4 linked regions of the Homo sapiens genome follow. The protein of the gene in region 1 purifies or fractionates together with the protein of each later gene. This does not show direct contact. Each region holds a gene or a part of one and is shown on either strand. Other genes may lie near its edges.

Region 1 (5,098 bases):
GCATGGTGGCGTGTGCCTGTAATCTCAGCTACTCGGGAGGCTGAGGCAGGAGAATTGCTTAAATCCAGGAGGCAGAGGTTGCAGTGAGTGGAGATCACGCCATTGCACTCTAGCCTGGGCGACAGAGCAAGACTCCGTCTTAAAAAAAAAAAAAAAAGTGTATTGCTGTTTTAACCCAAGTTTTGATGTCATTTGTTATACAATGATAGATAACTAATACAGATTTTGGTATCAGAAGTACAGTGTGGTCATAATAAAAACCTAAATATGCAGGCCGGACTCAGTGGCTCATGCCTATAATCCCAGCACTTACTGGGAAACTGAGGCAGGAGGATCACTTGAGGCCAAGAGTTTAAAACTAGCCTGGGCAACATAGCAAGACGTCATCTCTACAAAAAATAAAAAAGTAGCCAGGCATGGTGACATGTGCCTGTAGTCCCAGCAACTTAGAAGGTTGAGGTGGGGAATTGCTTGAGCCCAGGAGTTCGAGGCTGCAGTGAGCAGTGACTGCACCACTGCACTCCAGCCTGGGCGACAGTGTGAGACCCTACCTCAAAAAAAAAAAAAACAAAGAAAAAAAGAAAAAAGAAAGAAAAGAAAAGAAATAATTATCCCATACATACCAGTCATCCCATGCCCACCTCACCATTGTATGCTGGGTGTGTGAGGGGTAATTTGTCTCTTTAAATTCTCATGTCTTCAGATTGAAAGGAACTGTACTAAAGGAAATGCAGGTACTACTACACCTGTACTTGACAAAATGAGGTTCTAGACTTCTAACAGACTTCTAATACTGTAACAGAATATGGACTTAGGAGAAAGTGAGTGGGGTATCTGTGTGTGGAAGGAACAAAATCAATCACTAGGCGCCAGAAGCGGGACTATGATAGTCCCCCACCTTCTAAGATGGTGACCAGTGGTCCTTGTCTCCTGGCATTAACCCACTGATGCAGTCCCTTCCCATGATGACCAGAGCTGATCTGTAACACCAACGGGGTATTATAGAAATCAAAGAGTGTAGCCGGGCGTGGTGGTTCACCCTGTAATCCCAGCATTTTGGGAGGGCAAGGCAGGCGGATCACTTGAGATCAGGAGTTCAAGACCAGCCTGGCCAAAATGGTGAAACCCCATCTCTACTAAAAAAATTTAAAAAAAAAAAAAAAAAAAAAAAGGCGGGCATGGTGGCGGGCACCTGTAATCCCAGCTACTCAGGAGGCTAAGGCAGGAGAATCGCTTGAGCCGGGGACCGGAGGTTGCAGTGAGCCAAGATCACGCCATTGTACTCTGGCCTGGGTGACAAGAGTGAAACTCTGTCTCAAAAAAATAAAAATAAAAAAAAGAAAGAATGTGAATCCTGATATTAGGTCACAAAAGACCTCCAGGCATCTGCCTTACTCTCTATTGGATCACTCACTCTGGGAGAAATAAGCTGCCTTGTCATGAGGACACTCGAACTGTCTGTGCCTCCCAAAGGCAGCACTGCTAGTGAGCCATCTTCAAAGCAGACCCTCCAACCCCCATGAAGCCTTCAAATGACCACATCCTTAGCCAACATCTTGACTGCAACCTTAGAATATCAGAGCCACTACACCAAACACAGCCACTGCAAATTCCCCACATAAAGAGACGGTGATTGTTGCTTCTAGTTGCTAAATTTTGGAATAATTTCCCACACATCAATAAAAAATTACTATACACTAATAAGATCCAGCAATTTTCTTTTAATTTTTTTTTTTTTTTTTTTGGAGATGGAATCTTGCTCTGTCACCCAGGCTGGCATGCAGTGGTGCTATCTCAGCTTACTGAAACCTCCACCTCCCGGGTTCAAGCGATTCTCCTGCCTCAGCCTCCCAAGTAACTGGGACTACCGGCATGCACCACCATGCCCAGTTATAAATTTTTTTTTTTTTTTTGAGACAGAGTCTCGCTCTGTCACCCAGGCTGGAGTGCAGTGGCGCCATCTCAGCTCTCAGTAACCTCCACCTCATGGGTTCAAATGATACTGCTGCCTCAGTCTCCTGAGTAGCTGGAATTATGGGCGCCTGCCACTACTCCTGGCTAATTTTGTTTGTATTTTTAGTAGAGACGGGTTTTGCCATGTAGGCCAGGCTGGTCTCAAACTCCTGACCTGAAGTGATCCGCCCACCTCGGCCTCCCAAAGTGCTAGGACTACAGGTGTGAGCCACAGCACCCAGACTATAAATTATTTTTTAATTAAAAAAAAAAAATAGGCTGGGCACGGTGGCTCACGCCTATAATCCCAGCACTTTGGGAGGCTGAGGTGGACAGATTATGAAGTCAGGAGTTCGAGACCAGCCTAGCCAACATGGTGAAACTCCATCTCTACTAAAAACACAAAAATTAGCTGGGTGTGGTGGCAGGTACCTGTAATCCCAGCTACTCGGGAGGCTGAGGCAGGAGAATCGCTTGAACCTGGGAGGCGGAGGTTGCAGTGAACCGAGATCAGGCCATTGCACTCCAGCCTGGGTGAAAGAGAGAGACTCTGTCTCAAAAAACAAACAAACAAAAAAGAGACAGGGTCTAGGTTGCCCAAGCTAGTCTTGAACTCCTGGCCTGCAGTGATCCGATTCACCCTTCCAAAATGCTGGGATTATACAAGAGCCACTGCACCTTGCTGGGTATTTTTTAGTTTTGTTTTAACGACAGGGTCTCGCTCTGTTGCTCGACCTGGAATGTAGGAGTATGATCATAGCTCACTGCAGCTTCAAATTCCTGGGCTCAAGCAATTCTCCCGCCTCAGCCTCCTAAGCAGCCAGGACTATAGGTACACACCACCACAGCTGGCTAATTTTTAAATTTTTGTTAAAGGCAGGGTCTTGTTATGTTGCCCAGGCTGGTATTATACTCCTGGCCTCAAGCAATCCTCTTGCCTCTGCCTCCCAAAGTGCTGGGATTACAGATGTGAGCAACTGTGCCTGGCCCTACTTTTTCTTTAAATAAACTGCCATGGGAAAATTTCCATCAATACAGAAAGAAATAAAATAAGTTGTTCAACTTCTCAACCCTCCCTCACAGGCGTGTGACAAAAGAGGTTAGAAAAAGCAAGTCTTGGCTGGGTGTGGTGGCTCATGCCTGTAATCCCAGGACTCTGGGAGGCCAAGGTGGGTGGATCACCTGAGGTCAGGAGTTCGAGACCAGCCTGACCAACATGGTGAAACCTCATCTCTACTAAAAATACAAAAATTAGCTGGGTGTGGTGGCGGATGCCTGTAATCCCAGCTACTCAGGAGGCTGAGGCAGGAGAATTGCTTGAACCTGGGAGGCGGAGGTTGCAGTGAGCCGAGAACTCGCCATTGCACTCCAGCCTGGGCAACAGAGTAAGACTCTGTCTCAAAAAAAAAAAAGCAAGTCTCCTTTCCCGACTGTCAAAGGTTTGTTATAATGAAGCATCCCAGAGGAAAAATGTGTCTTTTTTTTTTTCTTTTTGAGACAAAGTCTCACTCTGTTGCCCAAGCTGGAGTGCAGTGGCGTGATCTTGGCTCACTGCAACCTCCACCTCTGGGGTTCAAGTGATTCTCCTGCCTCAGCCTCCCGAGTAGCTGGGACTACAGGCATGCACCACCATGCCAGGCTAACTTTTTTGTATTTTTTTTTAGTAGAGATGGGGTTTCATTATGTTGGCCAGGCTTGTCTTGAACTCCTGACCTCGTGATCCACCCACCTCGGCCTCCCAAGGTGCTGGGATTACAGGTGTGAGCCACTGCACCAAGCCAAATGTGTCTATCTTTATTACAATTACACCCAGCCTTCATTTGACCAAATGAGTCTTTACCATACCCACCAATTCTGCAACTTCCTTTTTCAACTTCCCAGTCCATCCTGAACAGCATGGCAGATCAATCCAACTATAGCTCCCTAATCCCTATTGGTGCCCAGGATGACAGTATATGAATATGTGCTGACTCTACTTTGTAAGTCCCCTGACAAATGAGTACAGCTTGGTTTCAGGTTTTGCCACTACAATCAAGGTCACAGTGAACGTCTTCACCCAATCTTGGCAAACTTTGGAGAGCACAGCCATGGGGAATGTTCCTCACCAGGGGATTACTGCCATTCAGCAACTTTTTTTGAACTATAAATACCTTATCAGCCTGAGTCAGGTACTCCAGTGGCCAGCTTTAAGGGAAGGCTTTCCTGGAAACAGCACCCCAGACGGTGCAGTGCCATCCTCGCCATGTGGCATGGCTGAGCACACCCAGACTGATCACACAGCACTAGGCTTTTAATGCACTTCAGCTCTGCCACTCACAGCAGATGGCTGGAAAGGCCCCGCCACACACCCAAAGACCATCACATGGACTGATCACCCTAAGTGACATTCAGGAAATCCAGATTCCCATCAGGACCCCACAACTTCCTTGCCCTGGAGGCGTCTCACTCTGTCACCTGAGCTGGAGGACAGTGGCACAATCTCAGCTCAGTACAGACTCAACCTCCCGGGCTCAAGCAATCCTCCCACCCCAGCCTCCCAAGTAGCTGGGATACACCACCACACCTAGCTGATTTATTTATTTTTTCCAGAGATGGGTTGGTTTTTTTGTTGGTTTTTTTTTTTTGAGACAGAGCCTCACTCTGTCACCCAGGCTGGAGTGCAGTAGCGTGATCTTGGCTCACTGCAACCTCTGCCTCCCGGGTTCAAGAGATTCTCCTGCCTCAGCCTCCCCAGTAGCTGATATTACAGGTGCTCGCCACCATGCCCGCCCAGGTAATTTTTTTGTATTTTTAGTACAGACGGCGTTTCACCATGTTGATCAGGCTGATCTCAAACTCCCGACCTCACATGATCCACCTGCCTCAGCCTCCCAGAGTGCTGGGATTACAGGCGTGAGCCACTGCACCCAGCCCATTTTCAGGTCTGAAAGTGGCTCTTGGCCAAAGTAACTGGACTCTGACCAGCCACACATGGAGGCCACTGCTCCTAGGACAAGCAGCAAATGATCACAGCTGACAAGAGTTTGGACGATCACCCTCGTAGCATGCACAGCCCACACAGGCACACCGGCATCACCCTCGTTCTCCAGACGTGAGGATGTCTGCCAACCCACCCCTGCAGAATCACCGCTAGGGTAGACACTGA
Region 2 (5,098 bases), on another chromosome or scaffold:
TTTTGAAAATTTCCACTAGATAAAATAATGGGCATCATAAGTATGTTTTAGATTCAGCCATTTTTAAAGGCTACATGTCATCATGAAAACATATTGGTTTACTTTATAACCCTCTGCCATCCTCAGCATTTTAAGTTTTCAATAATATATTTTCTCTTTGCCCCTACTTTTTTTTCCTCCTCCACAAGTCAGGTATCAACACTACCTATTACCTTTCATTCTGATTTAAGCTGTATTTGTTAGCGGCCTTGAGTTTATAACGGTGTCTGTAATTTACTGAGCCATGTTTCCAATTTTCCTTTGAAGGTGAGTTCTTGTTTCTTTCCTTTTCCTTTTCCTCTTTCCTTTTCTCTTTCTCTCTTTCTTTTTCTTTTTTTTTTTTTTCCAGAGTCTTGCTCTGTCACCCAGGCTGGAGGGAAGTGGCACGATCTTGGCTCACTGCAGCCTCCGCCTCCCAGACTCGAGGGATTCTTGTGCCTCAGCCTTCCAAGTAGCTGGGTACATAGGCATGGGCCAACACGCCTGGCTAATTTTTGTATATTTAGTAGAGACAGAGTTTTGCTATGTTGGCCAGGCTGGTTTCGAACTCCTGAGCTGAAGTGATTTGCCCGCCTTGGCCTCCCAAAGTGTTGGGATTACACGCGTAAACCACTGTGACGGGTCTTGGCTAGTTCTCCACATATCCTCACAAAAGAATAAATTAAATGGCAGGGTTCAGTGGCTCACGCCTGTAATCCCAACACTTTGGGAGGCCGAGGTGGGTGGTCATGAGGTTAGGAGATCAAGACCATCCTGGCTAACACAGTGAAACCCCGTCTCTACTAAAAATACAAAAAATTAGCAGGGCATGGTGGTGGGCACCTGTAGTCCCTGCTACTCGGGAGGCTGAGGCAGGAGAATCGCATGAACCCGGAGGCGGAGGTTGCAGTGAGCTGAGATCGCGCCACTGCACTCCAGCCTGGACGACACAGTGAGACTCCGTTTCAAAAAAAAAAAAAAAAAAAGAATAAATTAAACGATAAACAGGTTTCTGAGCTAAGCGAAGAAGCTTCTTCAACCTGAAACATGGCTAGAATCCTTCACATTCACAATGAAAAACAATAAAAGGAGTGTTTTTCCAATACCATTAAATAAAACACAAAAAACCCCACTAATTTCTAAAATCTTGCCAGCCTGGGCAACATGGGGAAATCCCATCTCTACTAAAAAACAAACTACAAAAAAAAGTTAGCCAGGCATGGTAGTACACGCCTGTAATCCCAGCTACTCGGGAGGCTGAGGCACGGAGATCGCTTGAGCCCCGGGAAGTCAAGGTTGCAGTGAGCTGAGATCGCACAGTTGCACTCCAGCCTGGGCGACAAAGCAAGACTCTGTCCAAAAAAAAAAAAAAAAAAAGGAAGGTAGGAAGGTACTCAAATTAGAGAAAAAGAGGTAGATATAGATGCCTGACAAAAATCATCTAAGGCAACATTAATCAACCTGTAAATGAAAATACTTATTGAGCACCTACCATATGCTAGTTGCTTTATAAGTGTTCTCATATAATAATTATGAGAACAAAGTGAAAAGTGAGTGTATTATCTTCATTTTATTCATGGGGTAACTGAGGTTCAGAGAGTTAAGAAACCTCCTCAATGCCACAGAGATATAAAATGGGAGAGCTGGCCCAGGCGCGGTGGCTCATGCCTGTAATCCCAGCACTTTGGGAGGCCAACGCAGGTGGATCACGAGGTCAAGAGTTCAAGACCAGCCTGGCCAAGACGGTGAAACCCCATCTCTACTAAAAATACAAAAATTAGCCGGGCACAGTGGCAGGAGCCTATAATCCCAGCTACTCACAAGGCTGAGGCAGGAGAATCGCTTGAACCTGGGGGATGGAGGTTGCAGTGAGCCGAGATTGTGCCACTGTACTCCAGCCTGGGCGACAAGGTGAGGCTCTGTCTCTAAACAAATAAATAAATAATAAAATGCGAGAGCTATTGGAACCCATACTTTATGCTAAAATCCATTCTGACTGTGCAACATAGCATGTAAATGATGCCCCTGAAAAGAAAAGAAAGGTAGTGAGAATGTGTTGTTGGGTGAAAGGAACCTTCCAAGTCACTTCTGGGTCATAATAGAATTCCCAGACCAATAAAGTCTTTGGTGAGTGAGGCTAGTGAACTGGAGGAAAGAGAAAAACACCATGGAAGGGTCTGTGAAATGGCATGGGTTAAGTTTCAGGAGGGATATGTAATGTACAATGAGCCATTTAAATACACAAAATATTTGTAAATTCAAGTGCTTGTAATTTAAGCAATCGCCATATACTGAAACCAGGCACAAATTAAGTGACAGCATCAGAATTTTTACTATTATTGGACCTATGTTTAGTTATATTATTTAAGCAACCTGAATGAAATGTAAAACTCTGAGTTTAACTGTAGTTTATTGAGTGATATCAAAGTACTTTAAGAAACTAATAGCCTTGAGATAAAAGGGCATATCAGCAAATAGTCATTTAGCCAACACCAGGATTAAATGTTTCTTTAGGATACTGAATGTTCATAGGCACAAATAAGCTTTGTATACTTGAACTGAGTTTTATAATAATATTAAACATAAAGGCTTCTTAAAAACAAACGTGTCTCCCTTCCCCCATTAACAGTTCCGTTTCAAAAAACAGAACTTCCTATGATTGTACACAGCACAGAATCCTACCTCATCCTGCTCTGCACCTGCTAACTAGATCAGAGAAAACCAAAATACTTCCAAGACATATACTTTACCTAAACAAGTTCCAGTTTAGAGTCACATATGATACAATACACTATATAAAGAATGGCCTTTTCTTTTTTCTTCTTCTTTTTTTTTTTTTTTTTTTGAAACGGAGTCGTGCTCTGTTGCCCGGGCTGGAGTGCAGTGGTGCAATCTTGGCTCACTGCAACCTTCACCTCCTGGGTTCAAGCGATTCTCCTGCCTTAGCCTCCCAAGTAGCTGGGATTACAGGCGTGCGCCACCATGCTCAGCTAGTTTTTTTGTATTTTTAGTAGAGACGGAGTTTTGCCATGTTGGCCAGGCTGGTCTTGAACTCCTGACCTCAAGTGATCTGCCTGCCTTGGCCTTCCAAAGTATTGGGATTACAGGCCTGAGCCACCATGCCCAGCCTTCTTTTTTTAAATGCCACTGAAATCAAGGCTATCTTTTTGTTTAAGCCAATGTTTAAATTTCAGGGACTATCAAAGGAATTCATCTTTAAAACATTCTTGGTGACTTCTAAAAAATGATAGAGTGCAAAATGATGTTCGATCAAGAATGCTTACTGAAGCATTATCTGTAAGATATGGAAACAAATGTTCAACAACTTGGAATTAGTGAAATAAATTATGAAACAGCCATTATATAAAATATACTGCAGTGATTTTAAACATTTTTAAAAATATTTGATCACTTGGAAACATGTTTATAATGTAATAAATGAAAAGAATGGGATATAGTGTTATTCCAATTTTTAAAAATTTCTCTTCCTACATATAAAATAAACATAAAAATATGAGCATTTAAAATTATAGTTACCTTGAATTTTTCTAATCCAAAGCAAAGTGATTGAAAACATCTTTAAAGTACACACTACACAAGACACTTTCCCAGTAGATTAATTCATACATGTTGAATAGTATAGCAATAGGATGTGCTCTAGGGACAATTTCGTATCATTTTCACCTCTGAGCAAACTCTTTGCACCCTATAATGGTGATTCTTCCTGATCTGAAACACAAGCCCCAAAATGTTAAAATGAACAACAAGAAATGGCAAAAATGGGAACATTCAAGCAAGTTAAGAAATATAGAAAAAAAGCTTGAAAATTACATTCATCTATGAATGAAAGCGTTATTTTCAGTGTCAACAGCAGAATGTCAATCTGAGTGCAACACGATGTAATTAGAGCTTATAATGTGGAACACAATAATATGAATATTCAAAACTATTATACGGCCCTAACAAATTTTATTTTACAGAAAGTAAAAACTTATATTATATATCACGTAAAACTTTATATAATATACATATGCACACATAAGTGTATATATACTCGTGTGTGTATGAATATCACAACTCAAGGGAATCAGACTTGTATTTTCAATGAACTGGACAGAGTATGAATGGGCGACAGAGTGAGAACCTGACTCAAAAAAAAAAAAAAAAAAAAGAAGAAGAAAAGAAAAGAAAATCCAAGTTAATAGCTTTGAAGGTGTTTATTTTTCAACTTAACTTCCCACATTTTCTGTTTTTTTTTGTTTGTTTGTTTGTTTTTCTGTTTTTCTTTTGAGATGGGGTCTCACTCGGTAGCCCAGGCTTGGAGTGCAATGGCGCAATCTCGGCTCACTGTAACCTCCGCCTCCCAGGCTCAAGCAATCCTCCCACCTCAGCCTCTTGGGTAGCTGGGACTACAAGCCCGTGCCACCGTGCTTGGCTAAGTTTTTGTATTTTAGTAGAGACGGGGTTTCACCATGTTGGCTAGGCTGGTCTCCTGGCCTGAAGTGATCCACCCACCTCGGCCTCCCAAAGTGTTGGGATGACAGATGTGAGCCACCGTGCCAGGCCATTTTTTGTGTTATTCATGGCATGCTACTTAAATGTATAGATTATCTCTTCCACTATGCAGTTTCCCAGACCTGCGTGTTGTCCTCCTTTAGACTGCAATTATGAGGAGGAAAAACTTGATTTTTTATGAGGTTTTTTACACGAAACCTCCCATTATGGGCAATCACAAAACTAAAAATGAGGTATGGTAAGCCAATGGACTCTGTAACAATTACCACTGAAGACCAAAATTCTACTCAGTAGTTAGTTAAAAAGGGGAAAAACACCACCCAATTAATGGCTTTAACGGGCTACCTTGCACAATATTTGAGGTAAGAAATAGAAGAAAGTATCACATGGGCTGGGCGCGGTGGCTCATGCCTGTAATCCCAGCACTCTGGGAGGCCAAGGCGGGCGGATCACAAGGTCAGGAATTCTAGACCAGCCTGACCAACATGGTGAAACCCCATTTCTACTAAAAATACAAAAATTAGCCAGGCGTGGTGGTACGCGCCTGTAATCCCAGCTACTCAGG
Region 3 (5,098 bases), on another chromosome or scaffold:
AACCTCTGCTTTCCAGGTTCAAGAGATTCTCCTGTCTCAGCCTCCCCAAGTAGCTGGGATTACAGGTGCATGCTGCCATGCCTGGTTAATTTTTTTATTTTTAGTAGAGATGGGGTTTCACCATGTTGGCCAGCCAGGTCTCAAACTCCAGGCTTCAAGTGATCCGCCTATCTCGGCCTCCCAAAGTGCTGGGGTTACGGGCGTGAGCCACCGCACCCGGCCTTATGGGTAATATTTTTGAATCATCATGTGTCTGGCACTATTCTAAGCATGTGGAAGTGTTAACTCATTCAATTCTCATGATGACCCATGGCGGGGAGAGGGGGCGGTTACCCCATCTTATGGATGAAGAGATGGAAGGTCAGAGAGGTTGCATAACTTTGTGGCAATCATCTGGCTGGCGGGGGGGCAGTGAGCCAGGATGTGAACCCAGCCCCACCGCCTCCAACAGACAATTTCAAACATCAGCACCTACTGTTCCTTCTGTCACACTGAGAGCACTGTGCCCATGACCAGGTGACACATTGGCAATGACACCAGACTTAAAAGATGTTGGCTGCCCCCACCATCCCCTCCAGAAAGACCATCCACCACTGTGATTAAGTAACAGGCATTTTATTGGGTGGCATCTGAGCAAATCCCATTGCCACCTCACAGTGTAGAACCAGTAGAACTAAGAATACTCCAGCCTGTGCCCCCACCCAGCCACCTGCCCCGGCCCCTCATGGGAAATGACACATATCCTGGAAGGACACAGAACCCACACCCAGCCCAGCTGGCACCAGCACCCACCCCCATCCATGGGCCAGTGGCACTTGGGGAATGGCCACACCAGCTCCGGGTGGGGTCCCATGCAGGCATCCTGGAGGAAGACCCAACACTTTCACAGTCCCCTAAGAACCATCCTTGAAAGTCATGCTTTACAGATCTCTGACCACTCAGAATCCAAGCAGGAGGCATCTGTGGGAGGAATCGTGGTCACAGATTGGCTGCGTCAAAAAAAGAATGGGCCAGTGAGGGACTGGTCCACACAGAGCCACTCCCAGGCAGAGGAGGATTCTACAGGCAACGTCCTCGGCCCATGCTGACGAACCCAAGGCCAGGCCTCTGGGGGCTGGGAGAAGGGAGGGCCAATGTCTGCCTTGGCCTGTGTCACCATGGCACAGTGGTGGCTGAGCTCCTGCAGGGAAATCCCAGACCCTGAGACTGGCTCTAGGAGTGGAGGTCTCTACAGGTAGGGCCTGAGGATCAAAGGGAAGGCTGACATAGGACGAAGGCCCATCCAAGGTTTTCCAGAATCACGGCCTAAACCGGCAGGACCATCCCATCCCACGCCTTGGCAGGTGGCCTCCAGCGGCCCCCCAACCCCGCCATGTGGTGCAGACCGGGAATCACACAGGCCTCGGCCAAACACAGGCACCTGGAGTAAGGCATGCCAGCATCTAAGGTGTGTGGCTGGGGACAGGGGCCTACTGGCCCAGGTGGGTCTGGGCAAAGATACAGTGAGGAAGGTAGACAGCCCAGACCAGAGAGGGCAAGGCCAGCTGGTGCCCCCTGTGCCCCACAGGTCAGTCTGAGTTACACTTTACCCTGGACACCTGGAGGGGCAGGGATCAAGGCCAGGAGCCTCTGTGAGTGGTGAGGTTTGCCAAGGGGCCCAGAATGGCCTCCTTTTCCCCAAAGGATCCCAAGAGCTGCTCCATCTCCTTTCCCCAGGTCCCTGAGCCACTGGGCCCAGTGGAGGGCAGAGGGAGAACCTGCCAGGCACCAGGGTCATACCTCCCACATGGCCGATGGGATAAGGGGTAGTGGCCATGTTCCTCCCCAGCACGATCTCAAACCAGAGCCTGAGGCATGGGAGAGGCCAGAATACAGTGGTAAGAAGGGAGTCAAGCCCGGATTATAGAAAGGCAGCTGTGCATGAAGAAGGGGTGGAGGGGCTGGAGTGGGGTCTGTGCAGTGAGGTCGGCCACCTGGACGGACAGACAGCTGGACGGTGGAGCCCGAGAGGGGCTCACTGCATGTACGCGTAGCTCCAGTCCCCCAGGGGCTTATGTGTCTCCTTGATGACCTGCGGCGACGTCCAGCGCAGGATGTAGTGTGGGCCCCCTGGCTTGTCATTGGTTCCTGCGGAAAAGACACTTCTGTTTTTCTCTGAAAAGATGCAACAGCCTGGGCAGAAGGGGAAGGGAGGAGATGATGGAATCAACGGACCAGCAGTGTAGCGGCCAGCAGCGAGCCTGCTGCCAAGCTTGGGGCATGCAGAAGAGCCAGAGGGATGGACAGGAGACCCTGCCTCCAGTCTCCAGTCTGTGGGGAGCCTCCATTGTTCTCTCCAGTCGCACCCAGCCTTGCATCCTTGCTGGGATGCGAGGATGTCTAAGAGGCAGGGTGTGGCGTGGAGAGAACACTAGACTGAGAGGCAGGGACTTGGCATGGTCCTGGGGTGCCATAAGAGGTACATATCTAGCCTTCACCCCTGGTTCCTAGCCAGAATTCCTAAAGCTCTTGGAATTTCCAGAGTGATGGGGGTGAAAGGAGTGTCTTCCGTTATTCATAACAAGCCCCTTCTAATCACACATGAGTTTATGCTAATGAGGGCTCTTGCAGGATGGCACTGATTGGCAAAGGAACCAACCCTGTGATTAGAGGCTTGGAACCTTCAGCCCCAGGGAGGGCAGAGGGGCTGGAGGTTGAGTCGACCCCAATGGCCAATGATTGAATCAATCGTGCCTGTGTAATGCAGCCTCCATAAAAACCTAAAAGGACAGGGTCGGGAGAGCTTCCAGATTGGTGAACACGTCCACATGCCAAGGGGGTGGCACAGCCCGAACTCCAGGGGGACGGCGGTGCCCCTGCCGGGGACCCTTCCAGTCTTTGCCCTATGTGTCTGCGCATCTGGCTGTTCATCTGTATCCTTTAAAATACCCTCTGCAATACATGGGTAATAGTAAGCACGCTTCCCCTCGGTTCCGTGAGCTGTTCTAACAACGTATCAAAACTCAAGAGGGCATCATGGGAGCTTCTAATGCGTCGCAAAGTCAGACAAGGTGTGGGTAACCTGGGGTCCCAGTACTTGTGATTGGCATCTGAAGTTGGGGGGTCAGTCTTACGGGACTGAGTTCTTAACCTGTGGGGTCTGCACTAACCCCAGGCAGTGAGCATCAAGTTAAACTGTAGGACACCCAGCCAGCATCCATCAAGAGCTGGAGAACTGGTCGGTGTGGGAAACCCCAGCACGCCTGGGTTCAGCCCTGGCTCTGCCACTCAGGAGCAGTCACCTTTGGCAAGCCATTGCTCCTCCTGAGCCTCAGTTCCCCATTGTGAAGTAGAGGTTGTTGGACTTAAGGGACACTGGCTATGGTGCAGAAAGTGCGGCTGCTGGAGCCAAAATTACAATCCCACCAGGGTCATGTGGCCTTGAGCCTCAGTTTCCTCCTCTGTAAAATGGGAAGAATAGTCCCTTTGCTCACGAGTTTGCTGAAAGGACCCTGAGCTAGTGCACTTGCTTGGCCCACAATAAGTGCTCAGTAAATGGTATCCTTCCTATTACTCTGAAGCCCCTCGAGACGTAACATCTAGGGTCTCCCACCAGGAACTCAGCTCCCCTGTGGGAAGGGGGACCCACTCACCAGAGGCTCGGGCCCCCCCAAAGGGCTGCTGGCCCACTATCGAGCCAGTGGACTTGTCGTTGATGTAGAAGTTGCCGGCAGCATTCCTCAGCACCTTTGTGGCCTCCTGCACGACGTCCCTACAAAGCAGAGCAGTGGTGACAGAGCAACCAGCTCATCTCCCCTCCAGCCCCAGCTCCAGCCTCAACACCCCTGCTCCAGCCCACACTGGCTTTCCAGGTTCAACAGGAGGCCGAGTCAGGGATGAGGGATGCTGCCAGCTGTTGGCTGTGGGCCTTCGGTCAGGTTACCCAGTCTCTGAGCCCAGCTTCCTCCTCTGGGGAGGGGCTTGGCACGCCTCGTTACAGGGCTACTGCGAAGTTGAAGGGAGTGGCCTGTCCTGGTCCAATGTTCCTGTCCCTCAGGAGCAGCGGAAACTCCAGCTCCCAGGCCCACACCCTTCCTCCCTCTCCAAGCTCACCTCCACTTTCTCATAGAGGCAGACATGGGGGCAACCAGTGCCACGGAGGAAAGAAGAGGCGAAGCCTCAAGTTTAGCCTCATGTGACCCAGGTTCGAATCCTGCCTCTGCAGCCCCTGGCCTGCCCTGCTTTGTAGCATGGGACAATCACCTCACTCAGTGGGGCAACACCAGATCCCGCAGAGCCAGTCGAAGACACCAATTCCTAGCCCTGCCCCTAGAGGTTCAGATCCACTGGTCCCCAGTGGCACCCTGGCACCGGCACCACCAGTACCGGCAACAAAGAGCCTGCTGCTGTGGGCCCATGTGGCGAGCCCTGGCTGCCTGTCTGGGCTGAGGGGAGGGGACAGAGAGAAGGTAGGGGCAGCATTATTACTGGGAACCACGTCCAGGAGGTGGGGATGGGGACACGGACAGGACACCCGGAGCACAGCACCAGGGCTGCGGCCTGGCCACTCACTTATCCTGGGAGAACACTGCCCCCGTGAGGCCATAGCTGGTGGTGCTGTCAACCAGCTGCAGCGTCTCCTTGTACTTGTCATCCGGGTAGACGTACACAGACAGTACAGGCCCGAAGATCTCCTAGGAGAGAGGCCCCGGCGTCAGACCCTCCACGGGACCAGGGACCAGGGCCCTGAGCCCTCCCAGTGCCCCTGCTCTGGCTCACCCTCTCCCCAGTCCCTGGGCCTCAGTTTACACTTCAGTGTCTGCAAGAAGGGTCAGGTGTCGCCTCCTCCTGGGTTCCCTCCAGGACAGCAACGTGCCCAGCTCCCTGTCCTGTCCATCCCACCACAAGCCGGCAAAAGATGCAAACATTTTCTGGCTCTCCCTGCCAAACCCACACCCGGAGAACTAAGGGTCCAGGTCCCAGAGGCTTCCAGCAGCAGCTGGCATGAGAGTTGCCCAGAGATACCATTCCCTCCAGAAGGGTTCATGGTTCCCTCTGCCACCAAGGGGCTGGGGGGAAGATCTTCTCAGGCACACTCCAGCCCTGCACTACCAACTTG
Region 4 (5,098 bases), on another chromosome or scaffold:
TAAACAGCTGCCATCTCCATGAGTTGAACTGGGAACATACACATGCCAATTCCTTTCCTTAGGGTGACCAATTTTTACATTCAAAGCATACACTAATAACACTGAAAGGATACTCAATACAGAAAGAATGCAGGGGGAAAAATAGCCTTGTGGTGTTTTTTGTTCTCTCTGCTACCCATCAAACGCTGGGCATAACATGGGAGGAGCAAAGGCAGTGAAGGGCCCTTCAGTATTCCATTTCCTTACCCAAGAACAGGGAGCTAAGGGAGGAGGCCATTCCTGTCATTCCAGTTTTAGAAGCTCCACATCGAAGACGAGAGTGGCATGTGGTGGGATGATGCCTGGGTGCCCAGTGGCACCATAGGCATAATCTGGAGATATAGTCAGTTTGGCTCTCTGACCCACACTCATCTGTGAAAAGAACAAGGAAGACAGACTCAGCTGGACACATGCCCCAACTGTCTCTGTAAGAAAAAGAGCTGTTTACCTAGGTGTTCCTTGGCCAGGATGGTATTGACTTTCCAGTGACTTTGCAGCTGCCCAGGCATCACCACCTCCTTGTGCAGGACTTGGAGGTTGGCAGTCATATTCCATCACCCCTGCATCTCACTCCAAGAAGCCCAATGGCAGTTCAAAACCCCTCCTGACTCTCAGAACGGTCAGGCCCTCAACCTTTCTACGCAAGTCTTAATGACTAATGCTAGGCAGGTAACATTCCAGATGTCTCACCACCTAGTCCCCTTCAGTGATCTGTCACTTAAAGGACATGTTAAGTGCCATCTATGCTCTTCTTGAAAAAGGAATACTCAACTTTGCTTTAAAAAAATATATACACAGGAAGTAATACTTGAGGGTAGTCTATTTTTTCTGTATTTTTTCTATTTATACTCTTTTACCCATATAGGAAAACTTCAAAAAAGACAATATGATTTTCTGGGCTACAAAATAGCATTTACTGAATACCATTTGTGAAAATATTGATATGCCTACAACAGAAAACATCTTTGGAAGGACATACCAGACATTTGCTGTGAGGAGAACAGTATGGATAGTGAGTGACCAGTAAGGAGAGATTTCTACTTTAAAAAATATATTTGTGTATATTTTCAGTTTCAAATTAAATACACAAATAAGTATAAAATATCTACTTTCTGAACAGTGAGCAGGTTCTCTGCAGTATTTCCATCCTTTGACTTATCTCTGCTTTTGGTCTCCATGTGTATGTTCCCGACTTTCCAACTCCACCAGACAGAGGATGAATAAAGAGGAAGCTCCAGGCTGTGAAGCGTCTAGTCCTTGCTCCCCTCAGAAGCTGGGACATGTTGGACCAAGGTGGTAAGGATAGTGAGGTATGGCTTTACCTTGTACAATTCAAAACAATCATATTCCTTGACTCAGCAATTCTATTTCCAGAATATTCTGCTAACAACTCAAAAGTCCATCACAGAAGGAGTGGTTTCATAGGCATATCCACACCAGGGATTAGTCATGAGAAATCATATAGTGGTGGCTTTAAATGTATTAACATGAAAAGATGTCCAAGATGGATGAAAGAAAGCTGCCAAAATGGTCCTTGTGGCAGGCAGGACTCCACGCCTGCAAACATGTAAAACCAAAACAATATCAAAAGGAAAGGAAAAGGGTCACAAGTCAATCTCCCCTTCTTCCTGTGTTTTTAACTCACTTGGTGAAAAAATATGCTATGAAGAATTTAAAAGATATTTTATGTAGATCTCAAACTACCCAGACTTCTCACAAATGACAGGGCTGTGACTGACCCCAAAATACCAGTTAAAGGGGGAGTCAGGCATCTGTCCAATACTCGACCATGCCTCTCCAAGCCTGGGAAGTGAAGTAGGCCGATAACACTATCTCGATGGCAGATACAGCACTCAGTACATACAACGCAGTGATTGTTCCAATGCTGGAGCAGTCACAGAAGATGGGTTGTGGTATGAACAATGGCTGGCATGAAAGATGGGGGATGGGCTACAGATCCAAGAGCCAGACAGACTAGGGAGACAGAGGCAAAAAGCTATGGTTGGCAAGGTTTCCCAAGGGAAGTAAACTACAAAGCCTCTTCCTCACACTGCCAACCCTCTGCCCTGCAGGAACAGAAACCCAGACACCTGGGAGTGGGATGGCTTCAAGTTCCTGAAAGTTGAGCAGTTTATTTGGAGATAAATCAGTGATATTTTATAGAGGAAGTAGAGCAATGTGTATTCTGGAAAAGAGAGAGACAGAAATCTGTCTTTTCATCTTGGTTAAATTTCTAATTCTCCTGGGTGAGAGGGAAGCAGACTAATTACCCATCATGCAGAGCCTAATTATAAAGTTCCTTGGGTCTCAGGTCACTGAAAAACATCCCTTTACCTGGTTAGAGCCAAGAAAAAATTCCTAGGTTTGATGGAAAGACAGAATCCAACTAAAATTTGGCAACCCTGGGTCCCTATTGTCTCCTGGGAATTTTGTAGTGTTGGCAGAACAAAAGCTGTTTCCACAAATGGGGAGGAAAGAGATTAGGAAACACACTCAAGACAAACGAAATGACTTTCTCCATAAGTATGACGTCTCAGAAGTGGTCTCACACAATATGGGTAATAGATAAATACAAATTAAAACCACTGATATCATGTTTTACTCTTATTGTCCAGAGGCCAAAGATTTAACAATATACTGTGATGCTGGGGCTGGGAGGAGATTGCACCTTTATAGCCTGGTGGTGGCAGTCCAGAGTGCAACCCCTAGAGATGGTAACTTGACAAGACCTCTCAAAAACACTACACACAGCTTTTGAGCCCCTCATCCCACTTCTGAGAGTAAGTCCTATGGCAACATGTGCACACGTGGAAAATGAAGTCTGTACAAGGTGAGTTACTGCAGCATTGTTTATAATAGCAAAATACTGGAAATGACTCAAATACTCATTAATAGGGCACTAGCCAAGTAAATTATAGCACACTTACATAAACGAATACTAGGCAGCTGTAACAGAGCTTACTCCTCATTTTTTCTTTCTTTTTTGAAATGGAGTTTCGCTCTCGTCATCCAGGCTGGAGCGCAATGGCACAATCTTGGCTCACTACAACCTCCGCCTGCTGGGTTCAAGTGATTCTCCTGCCTCGGCCTCCCAAGTAGCTGGGATTACAGGCACCTGCCACCACGCCCGGCTAATTTTTGTATTTTTAATGGAGATGGGGTTTCGCCATGTTGGCCAGGCTGGTCTCGAACTCCGGACCTCAGGTGATCCATCCATCTTGGCCTCCCAAAGTGCTGGGATTACAGGAACTCCTGACCTCAGGTGATCCACCCATCTTGGCCTCCCAAAGTGCTGGAATTACAGGCATGAGCCACCGCGCCCAGCCTACTCCTCTTTTATGTAGTGGTATTGCAAGTGTCAAAAATGCATTAAGTGAAAAAGTAAACTGCAAAACAGTATGTGTGTGAAAGCAAGAAAAAAGTTATGTTTTTATATGTGCTTAAACCACAGTACAAGAAACATTAACAACAGGAGCTTCTTGTGGGGGTATTGGTCAGATGGGATGGCATGAGGGTGAGACTTTTCACTTTTTTTATTTTTGAACCGTATAAATATGCCACCTATAAAAAAATATAAAAGGTAAATACTAGAAAGCAAAACAAAACAAATGAGAGAGCATACCTGGGCAACCCCTTCTTCCCAGCCTCGGATCACCTCCTGCTTGCCTAGCATAAACTTAAAGGGCTTGTTTCTGTCCCGGGAGGAATCAAATTTCTTTCCATCTTCAAGCATCCCTGTGAAAAAGACGACTGTAACATGAGCAGCAGAGTAATGACACAAGACAAGTCAGAAACCAGCAGCAGAGCACTCATCAGAGATGCCAGTGCTGAAGAGTCTGGCAGGAACTGCAGTATCTAGGGAGGGTTTCCTGTGACCTCACTGGACATCTAAGGAGTTGCGACAGTCCTACTCCAGACCTGTGAATGCTCTTCCCTGACTCCAAGCAATAACTCGACTACAAAAGGACCCCGCGTACCAGAGATGAGCGGCAGTCCACCTTCTTCTGGAGATGGGGAGTATAAACTTCCTCCTGCCCTGACTCTCCCAGCACCCCGTGGATTTTCTCCCCAGCTAAAAATAACTGTGGTCCCTCGAGGTGCACACTATGTCTAGAAGTCACACACAGTGCAAGAAGCAATATTCCTTCCCAAAATCCCCCATCATCTTTCACATATAATGTGTGTATATATTGCTCCTCCATTGTTCAGTGCAGGCAAATCCCCCTCCACCATCTGCCACCCCCATGGGCTCCTCTGTGGTTCACTAATTGTGACCTACACACATTGCTGCTCTCCAGGCTGTGGGTCAGCACTATGGGATGTGGTAAGAGGAAGCTATAAGGCAAGCTTTCACCCTCATTCTAGTGCCAAGTGTCTCACACCAACAGGGAACCTGGGGCGTAAAGCTGGCCCCTTGTAGGCTGGTTCCTGAGTTGTCATAATTTTCCTGGGAAAGTAAAAACCAACCTAGGCTGAAATAGAGAAATGAAAGAAAGAATTTGTGCAGCATTCATCCCACTTATTTTATCCAATGCTGCCCCACAAAACAACCCATGCTCATTTTTGCACAGCTAATACTTTGTAACAGAGATGACTGAAGAGAACAGGAATACTAAGGAGGTTGCAGTGGTGGCCCTTCAAGAATTAACTCAGTAAACCCAGCCAACTGCTAGCAACTCTGTGGCCAGTGGTTCCACTCTGAGTTACTCTAAATGGGCTAGGTGCTTTCCACACATGAACGAATGCAATTCTTTCTCCACAGCACTATCCCCATTTCACAGATGAAGAAACTGAGGCAGACAGGGAGAAGTGAAAATAGTAAATAGTAAAATTTACTATTATAAAAATAGTAAATTTATAATTTAGTAAAATAGTAAAACTACGTTATAAATTATAAACCCAAATACCATGCTCTTTCTATTATTCCAGTTTCCCAGAAGCTGGACAAGCCACGACGGCGCCTTCCAATAAAAGGGGAACTCCAGAGACGCTATGAGAAAAGAGGAACAGACATCTGCAATAGATATCTGCAACTTCCTTTTCAAAAACACCATCGGCA

Evidence for each region. Proteins that work in one complex are often made in the same cells at the same time.
Region 2: the proteins of GPI (region 1) and PLS3 purify together in Homo sapiens (affinity purification with mass spectrometry, with the first as the bait; one large-scale study listed by BioGRID). This does not show direct contact.
Region 3: the proteins of GPI (region 1) and ALDH4A1 fractionate together in Homo sapiens (co-fractionation; one large-scale study listed by BioGRID). This does not show direct contact.
Region 4: the proteins of GPI (region 1) and FKBP1A fractionate together in Homo sapiens (co-fractionation; one large-scale study listed by BioGRID). This does not show direct contact.

What each region holds. Positions count from the first base shown.
Region 1 is NC_000019.10:34,370,204-34,375,301, reverse strand, and holds part of GPI (glucose-6-phosphate isomerase), read right to left. Parts: intron 1-5,098. UniProt on the Homo sapiens protein: In the cytoplasm, catalyzes the conversion of glucose-6-phosphate to fructose-6-phosphate, the second step in glycolysis, and the reverse reaction during gluconeogenesis.
Region 2 is NC_000023.11:115,566,801-115,571,898, reverse strand, and holds part of PLS3 (plastin-3), read right to left. Parts: intron 1-5,098. UniProt on the Homo sapiens protein: Actin-bundling protein.
Region 3 is NC_000001.11:18,870,831-18,875,928, forward strand, and holds the end of ALDH4A1 (delta-1-pyrroline-5-carboxylate dehydrogenase, mitochondrial isoform a precursor), read right to left. Parts: intron 4,674-5,098; coding exon 4,552-4,673; intron 3,752-4,551; coding exon 3,633-3,751; intron 2,128-3,632; coding exon 2,015-2,127; 3' UTR 600-2,014; downstream 1-599. UniProt on the Homo sapiens protein: Irreversible conversion of delta-1-pyrroline-5-carboxylate (P5C), derived either from proline or ornithine, to glutamate. This is a necessary step in the pathway interconnecting the urea and tricarboxylic acid cycles.
Region 4 is NC_000020.11:1,371,830-1,376,927, forward strand, and holds part of FKBP1A (peptidyl-prolyl cis-trans isomerase FKBP1A), read right to left. Parts: exon of another isoform or gene 4,969-5,098; intron 3,775-4,968; coding exon 3,662-3,774; intron 2,870-3,661; exon of another isoform or gene 2,655-2,869; intron 1,350-2,654; exon of another isoform or gene 1,249-1,349; intron 412-1,248; coding exon 283-411; coding exon of another isoform or gene 247-282; exon of another isoform or gene 1-246. UniProt on the Homo sapiens protein: Keeps in an inactive conformation TGFBR1, the TGF-beta type I serine/threonine kinase receptor, preventing TGF-beta receptor activation in absence of ligand.